Linked DNA regions of Homo sapiens. The protein of the gene in region 5 purifies or fractionates together with the protein of the main gene of each other region. This does not show direct contact. Each region holds a gene or a part of one and is shown on either strand. Other genes may lie near its edges.

Region 1 (2,838 bases), on a different chromosome or scaffold from region 5:
CCATATTTGAGTCAGAGGACAGGCTGGTGAGTGAACTCTACATCTAAAAGGGTTAGGATAAGTAACAATTAAAAAGAAACTGGCCGGGCGCAGTGGCTCATGCCTATAATCCCAGCACTTTGGGAGGCCAAGGCGAGTGGATCATTTGAGGTCAAGAGTTTGAGACCAGCCTGGCCAAAATGGTGAAACCCCGTCTCTACTAAAAATACAAAAACATTAGTTGGACATGGTAGCATATGCCTATAATCCCAGCTACTCAGAAGGCTGAGGTAGGAGAATCACTTGAATCCGGGAGATGGAGGACGCAGTGAGCCAAGATCGTTCCACTGCACTCCAGCCTGGGTGACAGATCCAGACTTCATCTACAAAAAAAAAAGAAAAAAGAAAAGAAAAGAAACTGGGCAATGTTGAAATGTATCTGATTAACAAGAATAAAAATGAGTTTGATGAGGAGAAACTAAGTAGTAGGCCCAAAACAGATTTGTTAACCTATCTGGGGAGGAGAAAAAAGCCAGAACTTTATAAATTGTCCTCAGTAAGTTTGCTAAGACACTGAGGAGGGGCATCAAGGGACTTTTGAATGAGATGGGTACAAATCTATGCAAGCATAGGGTAGGGGGGAATCCCTGAGCTTAAGTCTTTGGGCTGGGTGGAGGTGGTGAAGGGGAGAACTTTAAGTAGAGAATCTATGAAGATGTTGGATGGAAAAACTGATAACTCTGTGTTTCCCAAATCCTACTGAGGGTAGAACAGGTTGGATAAGGACATAACAGAAGCAATAGAGACTACCATTAGTCTTGAAACAGCACGTGCAGACCATCCGAAGCCTGTAACTGTGAAACCAGTAACAACGGAACCTGTGAGTTGATTGGGGATTGGGGGCTGGGGGGAGACAGGACATCCCTAGTGACGTGGAATACATAGAGGGCTGGAATACCAGGCTTTGGTGGATGGGAGAACCAAATAATTAGTACTTCATTGCAGGTATTCATCTCAACTTGGCCATGTTTCACTAAGATTTAATACTAACCCTGTTTACAGAACACTGGGAAGATATGGTACAGTTAAATTTCAGTTCAGTAGTATTCAATAGGTATGTAATCTATGCCTAAGGCTGCTAAGGTAACTGATGCTGATAAAAAAGAAATCTATGTTACTGTCCTCAAGGATTTATAAAATTCAAGTTTACGAAACACTTAGAACAAAATGAAAAGGTATGTTATGATGTTAAATTATATATAAATTTGAAAGCAGAAGATACTGGCAGTGCTTTAGCCAATGTAAGAAGAGAGATTAGTACAGGCTAGAGTTGTCTGAAAAGCTTTCAAGAGGCATTTGTGCTTGAGATACACCCTGAAGAATAGATGAGCTTTTGATTGGTGGGTAGTTATGGAAGGACAGAAGCAATTAGGAGGAAGAATAGTTATTCCAAGAGTGAAAGAGGCCAGGTATGGCGGCTTATGCCTGTAATCCCAGCACTTTGGGGAGGCCAAGGTGGTCGGATCACTTGAGGTCAGCAGTTCAAGGCTAGTTCAATGGCCAACATGGTGGAAACCCCATCTCTACTAAAAATACAAAAGTTAGCCAGGCGTGGTGGTGCGTGCCTGTAATCCCAGCTACTTGGGAAGCTGAGGCATGAGAATCACTTGAACCCGGGAGGCAGAGGTTGCAGTGAGCCGAGATCACGCCACTCTACTCCAGCCTGGGCGACAGAGTGAGACTCTATACTAAAAAAAAAAAAAAAAAAAAAAAAAGAGTGAAAGAGCTGCACAGGAGGGGGGAATAGAACAAGCATAATATGTTTAGCAAATAGGGTATGATTGAAGGAGAGGGTATATGGAAGGGAACAGTGGGAATTAAGAAAAATATAAAATTTACAAGGCTCCTAATACTTGCTTAGTAATTTCACATGTGGCAACATAGGGGCAAATTTCAGAGAGTCTCAGGTGTCAGGCTGAAGTCTGGACTCATAATCAACAAGGAGCCTAGTAAGTTCTTCATTATGGTAAAAACACGATGAAAAGTGATATTTTAGAAAAACCGGCCAGGTGTGGTGGCTCACGACTGTAATCTCAGCACTTTGGGAGGCTGAAGTGAGCTGATCACCTGAAGTCGGGAGTTCGAGACCAGCCTGACCAACATGGAGAAACCCTGTCTATAGTAAAAATACAGAATTAGCTGGGTGTGGTGGCACATGCCTGTAATCCCAGCTACCTGGGAGGCTGAGGCAGGAGAATCGCTTGAACCTGGGAGGCGGAGGTTGCAGTGAGCCGAAATCGCGCTATTGCACTCCAGCCTGGGAAACAAGAGTGAAACTCCATCTCAAAAAAAGAAAAAGAAAAACCACTCTTCAGGTTGTATGCAGGATGTAAATAATTTAGTGGAAAGCAACTCATGAGATTTGCGTTGTTCCAGAAACAATCTGTACTCTGGCATTATGAATGGAGAGGAGAAAAATAAATATTATGAAGAAAATACCTTGCTTGAGTGATAATTTTATATGAAGTATAAATGAGGAGTGAGTTAAAATAACTCATGGGTTTTAAACATGGATGTCTGGGAAAATGGTTGACCAAAGTGGGAACTATGGGAGGCCAGAGTGGTTTAGGACAGAAGTTATTAATTTGGTAATGGCCAAGCTGAGTTTATGGTGACAGCCCTATGAGGGTGTCCTAAAGGTCACTGAACTAGATCAGGGCTAGAGTTCTAAGTGCAAAGTCACAGATATGAAAGTAAATGAGCTCAACAGAGCCAGTACACACAAGCTCAGAAGGCCAGTGACTGTGCCTGTAGTGAGTGGGAGGAAGAGAAATTAATGAATGGAATGGAGAAGGATTT
Region 2 (4,024 bases), on a different chromosome or scaffold from region 5:
CACAATTTGATAATTTTTAAAATTTTGTTGTAGCGATAAGATCTCCCTGTGTTGCCCAGGCTAGTCTCAAACTCCTGGACTTAAGCAATCCTCCCTTCTCAGGCTCCCAAAGTGCTAACATTACAGGTGTGGGCTAGTATGTCACCCACTGTGTGGGCCAGTATTCTTTGTTTTGCAATCTACTTTGTCTGATATTCACTTAGCCATTCCAACTTCTTAAAATTTAGTTTTGTCAGTGTATGTCTTTTCCCATCTTTTTGCTCTTAAACTATCTCTGCTTTTATATTTGAATAGCTTTCTGGTATTTACCATATAGTTTGGTTTTGCTTTTTTATCCATTCTAACAATCACTGCCTTTTACTTGTGAGCATTTACATCATTTATATTTATGTAATTATTGATATGATTGGGTTTAAATCAATTTTGCTATTGGTTTTTCATTTGTTCCATCTGTCTATTGGTCTTTTTTTTTCTTTTGTATTTGGAGACAGATTTGCCCTCTGTCACCCAGGGTGGAGTGCAGTAGAGCTATCACAGCTCACTGCCGCTGGGCACTGGTCCATTTTTCTATCTTTTTTTTTTTCTTTTGAGACAGGGCCTCCCTATGTTGCCCAGGCTGGGTTCAAACTCCTGGGCTCAAGTGATCCTCCTGCCTTGATCTCTCAAAGTGTTGGCATTACAGGCGTTAAGTCACCAGAGCCAGTCAGTTTTTTTTCACTTAGGTACAGAATTCAATGCCAACAGTTCTTTTCTTTCAACACTTTAACCATGTCACTCCATGGGGACGCTGTCTTGAGCCTTTGGTAAGCCTCATTCTCCAGGACCACACGGCAGGCGCGACAGCCCTAGGTCCACCCCACCCCGTAAGCGCTCCCTCCGGGAGGAGACAGAAACCCAGGACAGCTCCGGGGCAAGGCCGAGGAAGGAGGGACGACGGGGCAGGGAGGCCCGAAGAGTCCCCGCCTTTTGGGATAGTCGCCACCCTTGGACCCCCTCACCCTTGGGGACGTTGAGGAGTGTTAAAATCTCCAAGACGCGAGTCACCGGTACGAAGCCACAGCCATTTCGCTGCTTGCTCGGTGCAAGTGCAGAAGGTCCTAGTAGCCGAGCGTGGAGTCGAGCTCGTGGGCGGCGTCGGGCACCTTCGGCCGCGCCCTCAGCTGCACCCGCCGGTGGGCGGGGCCCGAGCCCGTCTCTAAAGCCACGAGGCCGCCCGCTCCGAGCCTGGTGCTTCCGACCGCTGCGCGCGGCTCCTGGGCTGTCACAGTCTCCCGTTGCCGCCGTCATGTCCCGGCAGCTGTCGCGGGCCCGGCCAGCCACGGTGCTGGGCGCCATGGAGATGGGGCGCCGCATGGACGCGCCCACCAGCGCCGCAGTCACGCGCGCCTTCCTGGAGCGCGGCCACACCGAGATAGACACGGCCTTCGTGTACAGCGAGGGCCAGTCCGAGACCATCCTTGGCGGCCTGGGGCTCCGGCTGGGCGGCAGCGACTGCAGAGGTAACAGTGGCCCCTGATCCTCCCCCTGCACGGTGCAGAGCTGAGCCTGTCCACAGCCGTGTACCGCCCCGCTCTCCCTGGCCCCGGGGCAGCACCCAAAGTTTTGTCCCCCCCACCGCCCCCACCCCTGTTCACCTCGCAGCCTTGGGAACACCAGGCTCCTTAGGCACGTCTAGCTCCGGACAACTTTTCTCTCGTCTTCTCTTCTGTTCGTCTCTCTTCTCTTCCGGGAGGTAGCCAGCACCCTCACTGACGCCTGGATGACTTGGTCTTGCCTGGAATGACTTGGCTAGCCCCTCTCTGGAGCACAAAAAACACTGGGATCTGGCATTGTGCAGCTCCTGTCCCCACCTGTGCCCTCCAGGTGCCCTTGACGGGCCTGATCTGCAGAAATTCTGTTCTTACCGCCTGGCACTCCCTGGCACAGTCCAAAATCAGAGTTTGGACCCAGCACACTATCTGCTTCCTCCTTTGCACATGCCAGCCTGCTCGGGGCCCCGGACTTTGCTCTGAGTACCTTGTGGTACTCACAAGGGCACCTCACAAGGGTGGCAGTGCCCGGAAGCCTTGGCAGCTCCCTCAGGGGGATGAGGGATTGGGGTGGTACAGAGTCTCACTGCCCTCTCTGTGGGAGGCTCTGTCGGAGGCTATTGGAGAGAAATGGACACTAACCCACTCCAGGAAGCTCCAGTTCTAGAGATGGCTGGGGAGCCCAGAGTGACCCCTTCCTGGGAGGGACCCCGTGAAGAAAGAATGGATAGGAGTTTGCCAGGAAGAGTACAAGGGGCAAGGGCGTCAGGGCAGTGGGCATGGGTGTGGAAAGGCAAATGTGTTTTGGCAATGCCGCGGGTGCTGGAGGAGGCAGGTGTGGCCGGAGGGGAGGATGTGTGTATAGGGGCAGGAGGAGCCGCCCTCAGTCTGATGCCATTTGCAGTGCTTAGGCCGATGCCTGGCAGGCACATAGTGAGGGCTGGGAAATGTTAGCTGTTTGTTTGTTCTTAGTATTAGCACCATTTGCCTCCTTCCACTGAGTGTCTGAGTGGAGTCTTATTTCTCCTCTGATTCACCACATGGTAGATCCAGAACGAACCTGGCCTGTGCGTGCATCCCAGTGCCACGCTCTTTCTAGATCACCCGGCTGCCACTCAGTGAGAGCTCTAACCATATTTCTGATTTTTTTTTTTTTTTTGAGACAGGGTCTTGCTTTTTTGCCCAGGCTGGAGTGGAGTGGTGCGATAGGGCTCATTGCAGCTTTGACCTCTCAGGGCTCAAGCCATCCTCCCACCTCAGTCTCCTGAGTAGCTGGGACTACTACAGTAGCACCACACCCGGCTAATTTTTTGTATTATTCATTGAAACTGGAGTCTCACTTTGTTGCCCAGGCTGGTCTTAAACCCCTGAGCTCAAGTGATCCTCCTGCTCTGGCCTCCCAAAGTGCTGAGATTACAGGTGTGAGCCACCACAGATCTGTACCCTCTGCCTGGCCCTTATTTCTGATTTTTTTTTCTTTCCTTTTTTAATCCTTCTTTGTCTTCTGTCTGAGTCCAAGGTTGGCTGGCGAAAGTCCTCAGATCTGATCTGAAGTTAAATTCAATTGAGAAGCAGAGGGGTGGTGGTGGAATGGAAAAATTCCATATGAATAGTTCCTCAAACCTGCTCTTTGCTAGGCCTCAAGGGCTCCAGTGACTGCCCTCCTGCCAGCCTAGGTGACTTTCTAAGTGTGAAAAGTGGGAAGAGGACTCTCCACTCACCTGTTAGTCCAGTTCACTAGGAACTAAGATTCTTTTTTTTTGTTGTTTGTTTTGTTTGTTTGTTTGTTTTTTGAGAAGTCTCACTCTGTGAGACATTGTGCTGTGGCACAATCTCGGCTCACTGCAACCTCCGCCTCCCGGGTTCAAGCAATTCTCCTGCCTCAGACTCCGGACTAGCTGGGGACTACAGGCGGGCTCCACTATGCCCAGCTAATTTTTGTGTTTTTATTAGAGATGGGGTTTCACCATGTTGGTCCAGCTGGTCTTGAACTCCTGACCTTCTGATTTGCCTGCCTCAGTCTCCCAAAGTGCTGGGATTACAGGCATGAGCCACGGCGCCTGGCCCTGAATTTCATTTCTCTTTCCTCTCAGTGAAAATTGATACCAAGGCCATTCCACTGTTTGGGAACTCCCTGAAGCCTGACAGTCTCCGGTTCCAGCTGGAGACGTCACTGAAGCGGCTGCAGTGTCCCCGAGTGGACCTCTTCTACCTGCATATGCCAGACCACAGCACCCCGGTGGAAGAGACACTGCGTGCCTGCCACCAGCTGCACCAGGAGGTGAGGGGACCCCTGAGCTCTGGGAGGTGGTCCACTGCTGCTCTCCTTATCCTGATCCTAATGGTGAGAGCAGAGGCACCAGGGCTGTTCCAGGGTGGAGCAGGGAACAGCCCAACTCCCAGGGGCCCCACCCTGGCCTCCCTTTCCTGGTCTGGGCTGCACTATGTTCTGACTGGAGCCTCACCTGAGCAGGGCAAGTTCGTGGAGCTTGGCC
Region 3 (3,293 bases), on a different chromosome or scaffold from region 5:
GTAGCTGGGACTACAGGTGCCTGCCACCACGCCCAGCAAATTTTTGTGTTTTTAGTAGAGATGGAGTTTCACCATGTTGGTCAGGCTGGTCTCGAACTCCTGATCTCAGGTGATCCACCCGCCTTGGCCTCCCAAAGTGCTGGGATTTACAAGCGTGAGCTGGCAGGGCGTGGTGGCTCAAGCCTGTAATCCCAGCACTTTGGGAGGCCAAGGCGGGCGGATCACGAGGTCAGGAGATCGAGACCATCCTGGCTAACACCGTGAAACCCCGTCTCTATTAAAAATACAAAAAAATTAGCTAGGCGTGGTGGTGGGCGCCTGTAGTCCCAGCTACTCAGGAGGCTGAGGCAGGAGAATGGCGTGAACCCGGGAGGCAGAGCTTGCAGTGAGCCGAGATCACACCACTGCACTCCAGCCTGGACGACAGAGCAAGACTCCGTCTCACAAAAAAAAAAAAAAAAAATACCAGTGTGAGTCACTGTACCTGGTCCGAATTTTTTTTTTTTTTTAATATTCGGAGTTTTCTTAATTATCAAACAGATATTTTTGGGACTGTTTGCATGAAGAGTATTAGATTTGCCACTACCAAATAAACATGTAAGTATATCAACAGTTAATTATGACTTTTATGAAAAGTGAGAGATTAATAAGAAGCAGTTTTGGTCGGGCGTGGTGGTGGCTCACATCTCTAATCCCAGCAGTTTGGGAGGCTGAGGCTGGTGGATCACCTGAGGTCAGGAGTTCGAGACCAGCCTTGCCAACATGGTGAAACCCCATCTCTACTAAAAATATAAAAATTAACTGGTCATGGTGGTGCACGCCTGTAGTCCCAGCTACCTGGGAGTCTGAGGCATGAGAATCGCTTGAACCCAGGATGCGGAGGTGGCAGTGAGCTGATCACGTCACTGTACTCCAGCCTGGGTGACAGAGCTAGACTCTTATCTCAAAAAAAAAAAAAAAAAAAAAAAAAGAAGAAACAGTTTTATTTAAGTAGTTGTTTCCAGGTCCTTTAATTACTTGAGAAAAGCAGAGAAACCTAAAAAGTAGTCTTAGAAGTCACTGACCATAAAATTTTTTTAGAAATAAAGATATGAGGATCAGGTTTAGGTGCAGTAGATGTTTTGACTGTGTTTATAAAACACGAACAGTTTACTCAAAATTAAATTTTGTTCACATTGATAAACTTTCCTTGAGAATGTATTTTTCTGCCAAGAAATTCTGTTAAGCTGATTTAATTCCTGGAGTAGTTTTCTGTATAAAGTTGTTAAAACTTTCTGTTTTCATTTTATGTTACTCAAATTATTTTCAACACTATCATTTTTTATTTCCAATTTTACATCAAAGATTTGATTCATCCTTTGCTGTTTTGTCCATGGCATATTTCTCTGATAGCTTTTGCTGCTGTGATTTTGTTCACAAAGTGCGTGAGTGTGTGTGTGTGTGGGTGTGGGTGTGTCCTCCCTGGAGAGTAACCTGTGTCCATTTATTGACAAGAGGATTGAATGACCTCTATTATCATTCATCAGTTCAGTTCAAGACTAGAATGTCAGTACTTGCCAAGGGCCTGTCTCTCTTCTCTTTCGTATACACGGTGTTAGAACTTTCATTCGGTTCTGAACAAATCTGTTAGAGGAGTGTAGGCTTTCTCCACCTCAGCACTGTTGGCATTGAGAGCAGGTAATTCCTTGACATGGGGAGCGTCCTGTGTATTGTAGGATGTTGAACACCATCCTGGGCCTCCACCCACTAGATACCAGTAGCATCCACTCCCAGTGTGACGACCAAATTTGTTTTCAGACATTGCCCTATGTCTGCTGCTAGCACAAAGGCCCTGAGTGAGACCCTGAAGCAGAGCAGCATCAGCAGGACTCCCTTCCCTGGTCCCCTGAGCACCCCCATCATAGGTCAAGATACCATCCCAAGGTACTGGTGTTTCTGACCTGTTTTCTTGTTGAACTTTGTTCCATACTACCCCTCAAGCCCCAGTTTTCTCATAGAGTACTAACCACGTATGCGTCTGTCTGTTCCAACTGATTTATTCCTATAATGATTTTGTGGTGTTTTTTTTTTTTTTTTTGAGACAGAGTTTTGCTCTGTTGCCCAGGCTGGAGTGCAGTGCCGCGATCTCGGCTCACTGCAAGCTCCGCCTCCCCGGTTCACACCATTTTCCTGCCTCTGCCTCCTGAGTAGCTGGGACTACAGGCTCCCGCCACCACGCCTGGCTAATTTTTTGTATTTTTAGTAGAGATGGGGTTTCACCCTGTTAGCCAGGATGGTCTCGATCTCCTGACCTCATGATCCACCCGCCTCGGCCTCCCAAAGTGTTGGGATTACAGGCATGAGCCAGCGTGCCCAGCCGATTTTGTGGTTCTTAACCAGTGAACATTTTGTTCATATCACGTTAAGTAAAGACAGAATTGTATTTACATGCAGGACAGTCCAGCCTCATTACAGAAAGTCGGGTAGGTGGGTGGTGGTCATGTTTCTGTTCCATGTAGAATCTAGGGTAAGATCTTAGGCAAAAGTAGGTATTCAGTACAGTAGTACCTGGAGGCTTTTTCCTTTGTTGTATTTAATGTGATTGGTGGGTATTTGTTGTGACTGGTGGGTATTTGTTGTGATTGATTGGTGGGTATTTGTTGTGATTGATCGGTGGGTATTTATTGTGATTGGTGGGTATTTGTTGGGATCGATTGGTGGGTATTTATTGTGATTGATTGGTGGGTATTGTGATTGGTGGGTATTTATTGTGATTGATTGGTGGGTAATGTGATTGGTGGGTATTTGTTGTGATTGATTGGTGGGTATTGTGATTGATTGGTGGGTGTTTGTGATTGGTAGGTATTTGTTGTGATTGATTGGTGGGTATTTGTTGTGATTGGTGGGTATTTGTTGTGACTGGTGGGTATTTGTTGTGATTGATTGGTGGGTATTTGTTGTGATTGGTGGGTATTTGTTGTGATTGGTGGGTATTTGTTGTGATTGGTGGGTATTTGTTGTGATTGATTGGTGGGTATTTGTTGTGATTGCTTGGTGGGTATTTGTTGTGATTGGTGGGTATTTGTTGTGATTGGTGGGTATTTGTTGTGATTGATTGGTGGGTATTTGTTGTGATTGCTTGGTGGGTATTTGTTGTGATTGGTGGGTATTTGTTTGATTGGTGGGTATTGTGATTGGTGGGTATTTGTTTGATTGGTGTGTATTGTGATTGGTGGGTATTTGTTATGATTGATTGGTGGGTATTTGTTGTGATTGGTGGGTATTTGTTGTGATTGGTGGGTATTTGTTGTGAT
Region 4 (3,951 bases), on a different chromosome or scaffold from region 5:
GTGGGCTAATGCTCTGTAACTAGAAGTTTGGAAAGCCGATAAGGTATAACAGAGGCCAGATTGTCATCCATCTGGCCAGTGACAGGTGATCAGCGCAGTGCTAGGGGCACTCGGGTGATGGCATGATTGCTGTGGTCAGCTCAGAGTCCTGAGGGGAAGCAAGCGGGCTCTCACCATCTCAGGGCAGTACCACTGCTGTGCGGCTGTCAGTCAGTGCTGCAGGCGCCGAGAGGAGGGGCTTGTGACCGCCCCAGGGAAGCTGGGCATCACCAAAGGGAGCTTGTTTGCCAGGGACACTGCAAGTAGGAAGTGTCTACAGGTCGATGACAGGCCTAATCTCTATGACAGGGTCTAGACTTTCCTCAGGGTCCAGGGGCGCACCTCAGGGTGAACTGGAAAACTCGACCGCACTTTAGTGCCAGGTGGGCAGGGATCCCCATGTCAGGGTGGGAGTGGGGCGGCTGATTGGGGCTGGAAATGTAGGTGGGGAGGCGGCAGCCAGGGAGCAGGGCATCCTGCGAGAAGAGCATCCCGCTAAGGAGTCTGAACGCCATCCTGTAGGCGGGGGAGTCATCAAGGCAGGGCAGAGGCAGGACCAGATGGCCGTTTGAGGTGCTGAGCAAAGCTCCCGGTTTGCGCGGAGAGGTGAGATCGAGGCCCCTTGGGAGGCCGAGGCTTAACCAGGGCTCAAGCAGAGGGGAGGGAAGGCTGGATTTCAGAGGTAGGGAGGATAAGGACCGTGGGTGCACGACGGGGAGGGAGAGCCAAGTCAAGGTTAATGCCGGTGCTCGGGCGGATGGTGAAAGCAGCAGATGGCCTTGACCGGGGTAGAGAACTCGAGCACAGGAGCAGGTTCTGTGTGTGTGTGTGTGTGTGTGTGTGTGTAGGAGCTTTTGGGGTCACGGGAAGTACTGAGAGGTGAGGAGTGGGATTTGGGACGTGCGTAGTTGAACTCATAGGACGTCCAGGTGGAGAAGGAATCACTTCCTGTCTCTGGATCCGTCTCGATCTCTGCCTGGCGAGGGCGCGCCCCGGCTGGGCGTGGACACTGTTCTCCGGCCGCGTCGGGCCGGGCGGGTGGGGCGTTCCTGCGGGTTGGGCGGCTGGGCCCTCCGGGGTGTGGCCACCCCGCGCTCCGCCCTGCGCCCCTCCTCCGCCGCCGGCTCCCGGGTGTGGTGGTCGCACCAGCTCTCTGCTCTCCCAGCGCAGCGCCGCCGCCCGGCCCCTCCAGCTTCCCGGTAAGGCGGTGGGGGCGCATCCCCTGGCGACTCCTCCCGTTCCCTCTTCCGCTTGCGCTGCCGCAGGTGGGCCCGGTCTGTGGGCGCCCCCCGATTTCCCGCAGGTCCCGCGCGGCGTCGGAGCGGGAGATTCCCTTGCAGCTTGCGCCCCGCGGGCCTTCGGGCTCCGCAGAGGGACGCCGGCCCTGCGCGGGGCGGAAGCGGCCGGGAAGCCACGTGTCCCCGCGGCCGCGCGTGGTGGGGGAGGAGGGACCGGCGGCGCCCACGTGGCCTCCGCGGGCCCCGCCAGAGCCTGCGCCCGGGCCCTGACCGCACCTCTCGCCCCGCAGGACCATGGCCAACCTGGAGCGCACCTTCATCGCCATCAAGCCGGACGGCGTGCAGCGCGGCCTGGTGGGCGAGATCATCAAGCGCTTCGAGCAGAAGGGATTCCGCCTCGTGGCCATGAAGTTCCTCCGGGTAACTCGCCCCCGTCTCCCCTTCCCCGCTGCAGCCGGCTCGCGGGTGTTTTTCCCTCCCGGCGGCGGTTTGTCCGCGTCTGCTTTCCGAGTTCATTTCGCTGCCGCGAAATCCCTTTGCCCTCTGCCCCCGCCCACGGCGGCTTGGGCCCGCCGACCCTTTCCCGGGGTGGTGGGGACAGACGCCCTTGGGAAGGTGAAGCGCTGGTAGCGTGACTCGCCCTCCGGGTTTGGGTTCCTTCCCGCGGGCCGCTACCTGCCCACCCGCCGCAGGGGGGCAGCAGGGAGCGGAAAAACCCCGGGCCCCAGACCCCCTGCGCCTGCCCACTCGGGTCCACCTAGGCACAGAATGGAGGCTTGGAATCTCCTTTGCTTTAGTCTGAAACTCCGAGTTCCAGTGCGGTGCTCCTCCTTTAGCATAGGGTAGTGAGTGTATTTTCCACATTAAATTTGGGGCACAGATCTGAATCCCTACACTTACGGGTAAGAATCTAAGTACTGAAATTCAACCAGGCTCATCGGTGAAGAGAATGTTCTCAGTTATTATCTGAAATATTTAAAAGGGCATTGTGAGTAGCCCAGGGGAGTTTAACATGACCTCTGCCAGGCAGATGACCTGACATATGTACTTCAGTTGCAGCCAAAATTTAATTCCCTAAATCTAGATCCTCAAACCACCTACTTTTTAGGCTTACAAAACCCCTAATGTCATTGACGGTATGAGGGTGTCTTTACGATTAGAACAGTCTTGGCCAGGCGCGGGGCTCACGCCTATAATCCCAGCAATTTGGGAGGCCGAGGTGGGTGGAGCCCAGGAGTTGGAGATCAGCCTGAGCCACATAGCAAGCCCCTGTCTCTACAAATAAATAAATAAATAAATAAAAATTAATTGGGCATGGTTGAGTGCATCTGTAGTTCCAGCTACTTGGGAGGCTGAGGTAGGAAAATCACTTGAGCCCTGGAAGTTGAGGCTGCAGTGAGCCATCATTGTGCCACTGCATTCCAGCCTGGGTGATGATAGTGAGACCCTGTCTCCTAAAACAAACCAAAACAACACACCAAAAAAAGAACAGTCTTTCTGTTAAAATGGCATTAGTTTCATGGTTTGGATGGGATTTAAAAAATATTTATGTGTGTGTATATGTGTGTATATATATATATATTTCCACACACCACTTAGGAACGTGGGCTAGAATATAAAACCGGACTTGCTAATGGGAGGTTCAGAGGATGGGTTGGAGTCTTTCCAGCTTAGCTCCTAACTGGTGCCTCCTCTCCAATGCCAGGCCTCTGAAGAACACCTGAAGCAGCACTACATTGACCTGAAAGACCGACCATTCTTCCCTGGGCTGGTGAAGTACATGAACTCAGGGCCGGTTGTGGCCATGGTGAGTGCTCGTGGGGAATGAGAGAAAATGAGGAAAAAGTGCTCAGTGTTCTTTGTTAGACATCTCCCTCAGCTAATCTAAATTTTATTTTATGAATGGAACCTGCTGAAGTTACTTAACTGAGCAACTAGGAGCTTGGGAGGAGAAAGCAAATCAGACCTTAGAAATGGGAAGGATGTTAGCTGGGTGTGGTGGTGCACGGCTGTAATCTCAGCTACTTGGGAGGCTGAGGTAGGAGAATTGCTTGAACCTGGGAGGCGGAGGTTGCAGTGAGCCGAGATCGTGCCACTGCACTCCAGCCTGGGCAACAGAGCGAGACTCTGTCTCGACAAAGAAAAAAGATATGGGAAGGACTTTTTCAGGTACATGTCTCTATGGTTAAATAGAATCTCACTGCCTGCAAGAGTGGTAAATTTTCGGGCCAGGCTTGGTGGCTCATGCCTGTAATCCCAGCGCTTTGGAAGGCTGAGGCGGGTGGATCACCTGAGGCCAGGAGTTAATCCCAGTTACTCAGGGGGCTGAAGCACGAGAATCGCTTGAACTTGGGAGGCGGAGGTTGCAGTGAGCCGAGATCATGCCACTGCACTCCAGCCTGGGCGACAGCAAGACTCCATCTCAAAAAAAAATAATACTCAATTTCTTCTGTTTGACAAGTGTTTTAGACCTTAATGTTTCCTAGATTAAAAAACTTTATCCTATTTTCTCATGAAAAATTCAAAGGTAAGGATGTAAGAAGTTCTCAATCCTATACTAGAAGCAGTTTCTTCTGGATGGTGCTAATGTCCATTTGGGAGTGGAGAGAATATGAGGAGAGAGTGGCTGGGCGAGGTGGCTCACACCTGTAATCCCAGCACTTTGGGAGGCCGA
Region 5 (4,291 bases):
ACCCCAGGCCTGCTGGGTCAGCCTTCCAGGCTCGCTGAAGGTTCCTGCGTGGGGCAGCCCTCACTGAGGTCCTCCCCGTGGCTCCAGAGAGGAGCTAGTCCTAGGGCACTCGAGTAGAGAGGTGCGCCCTCCTCCCTCTTCTAAATGGTTCCCCAGCTGGCCCCACCTGGCCCCTTTCCCCAACTAACTCATCAGTGCCTGGCAGGAAGACACAGCAGCCCTCCCCCGGTGACTGGAGTCCTGGCCCCAGGGCAGGCCCCGCTCCAAGAACCTGATCCTTTGGCTGGGGCAGGGCCGTAGAGGTGGGCGCAGAGCTTCGGGGAGCTGGCTGTGGGGTCCGCGCATGCAGCCCGCAGGCAAACCATTGCCAGGCCCACGCCTGCACTAAGCCCAGCGCCAGCGCCAGGTCAGCCAAGAACCCGGGGTCGTGGAGGAGGAAGGAAGTCGTGGGCCCGGGATGCGCGGCCGGACCATTGCAGGAGAGCGGGGCAGGCGGACGGCGCAGCAGCTTGCGGGCAGCGAGTCGTCTGCATGCGGCGGCGAAGCGCCCGGGCCCCCGTCCGCGCCGGTGCCCGCAGCGCGCAGCAACTTGGCCGCCGGGTCCCGGCCGCCCCGGTAGAGGCTGGGTACAGCGAGGGGGCCGGGCGCCCGGGCAGGACGGGCGCGGCGGGTGGGGCCTGGCCGTCTCCCCCTGCCCTCGGGGCCGAACACGCACAGCGAGAGTCTAGCGTCGGCGTGGCTGCGGCCAGCCGGGTCCCCCTGGAGGCCTCCGGACGATCGGAAGTGACTGAGCGTCCGGGTCCGTGAGGCCGGGGGTCGGCCCGCCCTAAGACTCCCACCTGGTCCCGGTTCTCCGTCCGCTAGGCTGGCCGCGGGGCCCCTGGGGCCCGACCTTCCCGGGGTGCCCCAACCTGCGGCAAGGCCGAGGTCCCGCTGAGGCATGAGTCCCGGGTCGGGGACCGCTCTGGGCCGACCCCCGGAGGACGGACTAGGCCGATCCCCAGAGGGAAGGGGGCCAGGCCGAGGCCATGGCAGCGCGTTCCCTGATCCCGTGTTCTCGGCTCCTCGCGTCCCACTATCGGCTGTCCCTTTCGTGCGGGACTGACGGCTCACAGAACAGTTACATTTCAATATCATTCGACTGAAAACCATCCTGTGGACGCCGTGCGAGCATTGTCCCCATTTCACAGCTTGGGAGCTGCGACCAGAGAACGTGGGCGCGCCTCGCAAGGCCGTGACCGCGGCGGGACTCGAACCCTCCCTCCTGAGTGCGCGCCGATGTTCCTTAGGACCCGGGAGCGCCGGGGGGGGGGGGGGGGGCGGGGGCCCCGCGCGCTACCCCCTGGGAAGTGTAGTCCGAAGTTGCGGGCCGGGGCCAAGCAGGAGGCGCGTGGGACTACACTTCCCGGCATGCCACGCGGCCGCCGGCGCCCTCGGCCCGTCCGCCCCGCCCCGCCCCGCGGCCCCAGCCCGCCCCGTCCGTTGAGGGCCCGCGCCGCATGGAGGCCGGCTGAGGAGCGCCGCTGCCTCGCCTCGGTACGCCGCGCGGCGCGGACGGCGCGTGCGTGAGGACGGGGCCCAGCACCGAGCGGGGGGCGGGCCCGGGTCAGGGCCGCGGGGTGACTGTGGGGGGCGGGGGGAGCGAGCCCGAGTCGGGGGGTGGGGGCCGGGGGCGGGGGGGGTCAGGCCCGGGTCAGGTTTTGGGGCCGGGGTAGCAGGTCGTGGGGGTCAGGCCCGGATCAGGTTCAGGTTTTGGGGCCGGGGGAGCAGGTCGTGGGGGTCAGGCCAGGGTCAGATTCAGGGTTTGGGGCTGGTAGACCAGGGTCGTTGGGGGCCGGGCCCGGGTCAGGTTTGGGGGCCGGGGTGGCAGGTCGTTGGGGGGGCCAGGCCCGGGTCAGGTTTTGGAGCCGGGGGAGCAGGTCGTGGGGGTCAGGCCCGGGTCAGGTTTGGGGCGGGAGCAGGCCCCGCGCGTCCCCTGCCACCGCTGCCGGGAGCGGCGCTGCCGAGGAGCGGAGCCCCCCAGGGCTGGGGCGGGGAGGGTCAGCGGCGGCCTCGCGGGAAGGCGCGGGTCGGACCTCGAGTCCCAGGGTCCTCGCGGGTCGGGAGGGCCCCAGCCACCCCCGCCTGCCGCCTGCGGTGGAGCCGGCCGAGGTGAGAGTGGAGGAAGGCGGCCCAGGCCTGCGGGTCTCTGGGGGTGCTGGGGGAGGCCGAGCGGGAGGCCCCGGACCCCCGTTGTCCCCTCCGGCCCCGCTGAAACCTGGGGCTTCGCTCTTCTGTAGGTGCCTTTGCCCTTCAATTGGAGCAGAGCGGGGTTCCCATATGGGCGAAGTGGACGCCAGATCGTCCCCCGCTGTGCGCAGCCCAAACTTAAAAGGTCTTTTTAACTGAGCTATCATGAAGCTGCCGTGTGTCTTTGTCAAAACTCTTACAAGAAAGATGGAGTGGGAGCTGTCTGGGCACTAGCGTCCCAGAAACAACCAGGAACTTGTGGAGGTGCTAAGCTCCCTGCGGGGACTCCCGCAGCCTCGGTAGCCTCCAGATGGAAGCCTCCTAGCTTTCAGGTCCCTGAAGAGGCCGTGCAGGCCGCCAGGCTCACTGCGCTGTGTGTCTCTGCTCCCCGCTTGCTGCCGCCGCCCTTGCAGTGTGACTGGTGGGGATGCTGGCCAGCCTCGCCGGAGGCCCTGATGCTGTGGGGTCCGAGGAGGGGGCCTGGCAGGGTGGGTGGGTGGCAGGAGCCTGTGGGGCCCCCTGCATGGTGGTCAGTGTGGGGGCTCTGCATTGACTGTGACCAGGTCCTGGGAGGTTGGGGGCTGCCAGGTGTGCTGGCAAGGAGGCCTCGGGCTCTGGCTCAGGTGTGTTTCCCGTCTCCCAGCTCTGCCACACCTGCGTGAAGCGGTCCCGCCAAAGCCGGGAGGGGTTTCCTGTGGCCAAAGGTGCCAGGCATCAGAAACAGGAAGCAGGGGAGGTCAAAGCTCTGGGCCACACCCTGGTCCCTCCAAGTTTGTCATTTCTGCAACCCCCAGGTCTGACCAGTTTGGAACCTGGGCTTTCTGAGCCGGTCTAGTGGGTTGGTTGAGAGATGGGGGTTTTTCTGGTAACTGCATTTGGTGCTAGCCAGTTTTTGGTCTGCACTAGGAAGCTAGGCTGCAGTCTGGGAGGCAGTTTCTAGTGGGGTGAAGGGGATAAGATGGGTGTCTTAGCTCTAGCTGCTGTAACAAAGCATCACAGACCAGGAAACTTTAAAAAACAGCAGGCTGGGCTGGGTGTGGTGGTTCACGCCTGTAATCCCAGCACTTTGGGAGGCCGAGGCGGGCAGATCACGAGGTCAGGAGATGGAGACCTTCCTGGCTAACACGGTGAAACCCCGTCTCTACTAAAAAATACAAAAAATTAGCTGGGTGTAGTGGCAGGCGCCTGTAGTCCCAGCTACTCGGGAGGCTGAGGCAGGAGAATGGCGTGAACCCGGGAGGCAGAGCTTGCAGTGAGCCGAGATCATGCCACTGCACTCCAGCGTGGGCAACAGAGTGTGACTCTGTCTCAAAAACAAAAATGAGGTCTTGGCCTGGCGCAGTGGCTCACACCTGTAACCCCAGCACTTTGGGAGGCCGAGGCAGGTGGATCACAAGGTCAGGAGTTCAACACCAGCCTGGCCAAGATGGTGAAACCCCATCTCTACTAAAAATACAAAAATTAGCTGGGGGTGGTGGCGCACGCCTGTAATCCCAGCTACTCGGGAGGCTGAGGCAGGAGAATCGCTTGGACCTCAGGGTGGGGGAGGTTGCAGTGAGCCAAGATCACGCCACCGCACTCCAGCCTGGGCGACAGAGTGACACTCCGTCTCAAATAAAAAAAAAATGAGGTCTCGCTAAGTTGCCCAGACTGGTCTTAAACTCCAGACCTCAGACAATTCTCCTACCTCAGCCTCTCCTGAGTAGCTGGGGCTGTGAGCGAGTAGGCTCCTCCCACCATGCCTCACTGGTGCTGGGAAAAAACTTAACAGAAATTTATTTTCTCAGAGTTCTAGGGGCCGGACATCCCAGATCAAAGGTGCTGGTCCCTGGTTGCCATGCAGCCTCCTGGCTTGTAGACGGGCCCCCGCGGCGTCCTTACCCGGGGGAGCAAGAGCTGCGTGGCGTCTCTTCCAGGAGTACTAACCCCGTCATGGGGGCTATGCACTCATGACCTCATCCGAACCTGATCACCTCCTGGAGGCCCTGCCTTCTAATACCTTCATAGTGGGAGTTAGGGCTCTAACCTGTGGGTTTTGGGGGACACAGTTCAGTCTGTAGCA

What was found.
Region 1: the proteins of TRABD (region 5) and C1orf54 purify together in Homo sapiens (co-immunoprecipitation; one large-scale study listed by IntAct). This does not show direct contact.
Region 2: the proteins of TRABD (region 5) and AKR7A3 purify together in Homo sapiens (affinity purification with mass spectrometry; one large-scale study listed by BioGRID and IntAct). This does not show direct contact.
Region 3: the proteins of TRABD (region 5) and HSDL1 purify together in Homo sapiens (affinity purification with mass spectrometry; 2 studies listed by BioGRID and IntAct, with this or other methods). This does not show direct contact.
Region 4: the proteins of TRABD (region 5) and NME2 purify together in Homo sapiens (affinity purification with mass spectrometry, with the first as the bait; 3 studies listed by BioGRID). This does not show direct contact.

The regions. Positions count from the first base shown.
Region 1 is NC_000001.11:150,275,774-150,278,611, forward strand, and holds part of C1orf54 (uncharacterized protein C1orf54 isoform b precursor), read left to right. Parts: coding exon 1-26; intron 27-748; coding exon 749-859; intron 860-2,838.
Region 2 is NC_000001.11:19,285,971-19,289,994, reverse strand, and holds the start of AKR7A3 (aldo-keto reductase family 7 member A3), read left to right. Parts: upstream 1-1,224; 5' UTR 1,225-1,285; coding exon 1,286-1,499; intron 1,500-1,634; exon of another isoform or gene 1,635-1,935; intron 1,936-3,622; coding exon 3,623-3,810; intron 3,811-4,002; coding exon 4,003-4,024. UniProt on the Homo sapiens protein: Catalyzes the NADPH-dependent reduction of various carbonyl-containing compounds, including aldehydes, ketones, and toxic products from cellular metabolism or environmental exposure.
Region 3 is NC_000016.10:84,124,887-84,128,179, reverse strand, and holds part of HSDL1 (inactive hydroxysteroid dehydrogenase-like protein 1), read left to right. Parts: intron 1-3,293.
Region 4 is NC_000017.11:51,165,260-51,169,210, forward strand, and holds the start of NME2 (nucleoside diphosphate kinase B), read left to right. Parts: upstream 1-1,151; 5' UTR 1,152-1,238; intron 1,239-1,241; exon of another isoform or gene 1,242-1,304; intron 1,305-1,462; exon of another isoform or gene 1,463-1,567; coding exon of another isoform or gene 1,568-1,571; coding exon 1,572-1,697; intron 1,698-2,982; coding exon 2,983-3,084; intron 3,085-3,951. Other genes in the region: NME1-NME2 protein, read left to right, coding at 1,568-1,697, 2,983-3,084. UniProt on the Homo sapiens protein: Major role in the synthesis of nucleoside triphosphates other than ATP. The ATP gamma phosphate is transferred to the NDP beta phosphate via a ping-pong mechanism, using a phosphorylated active-site intermediate.
Region 5 is NC_000022.11:50,184,441-50,188,731, forward strand, and holds the start of TRABD (traB domain-containing protein), read left to right. Parts: upstream 1-1,472; 5' UTR 1,473-1,536; exon of another isoform or gene 1,537-1,605; intron 1,606-4,291.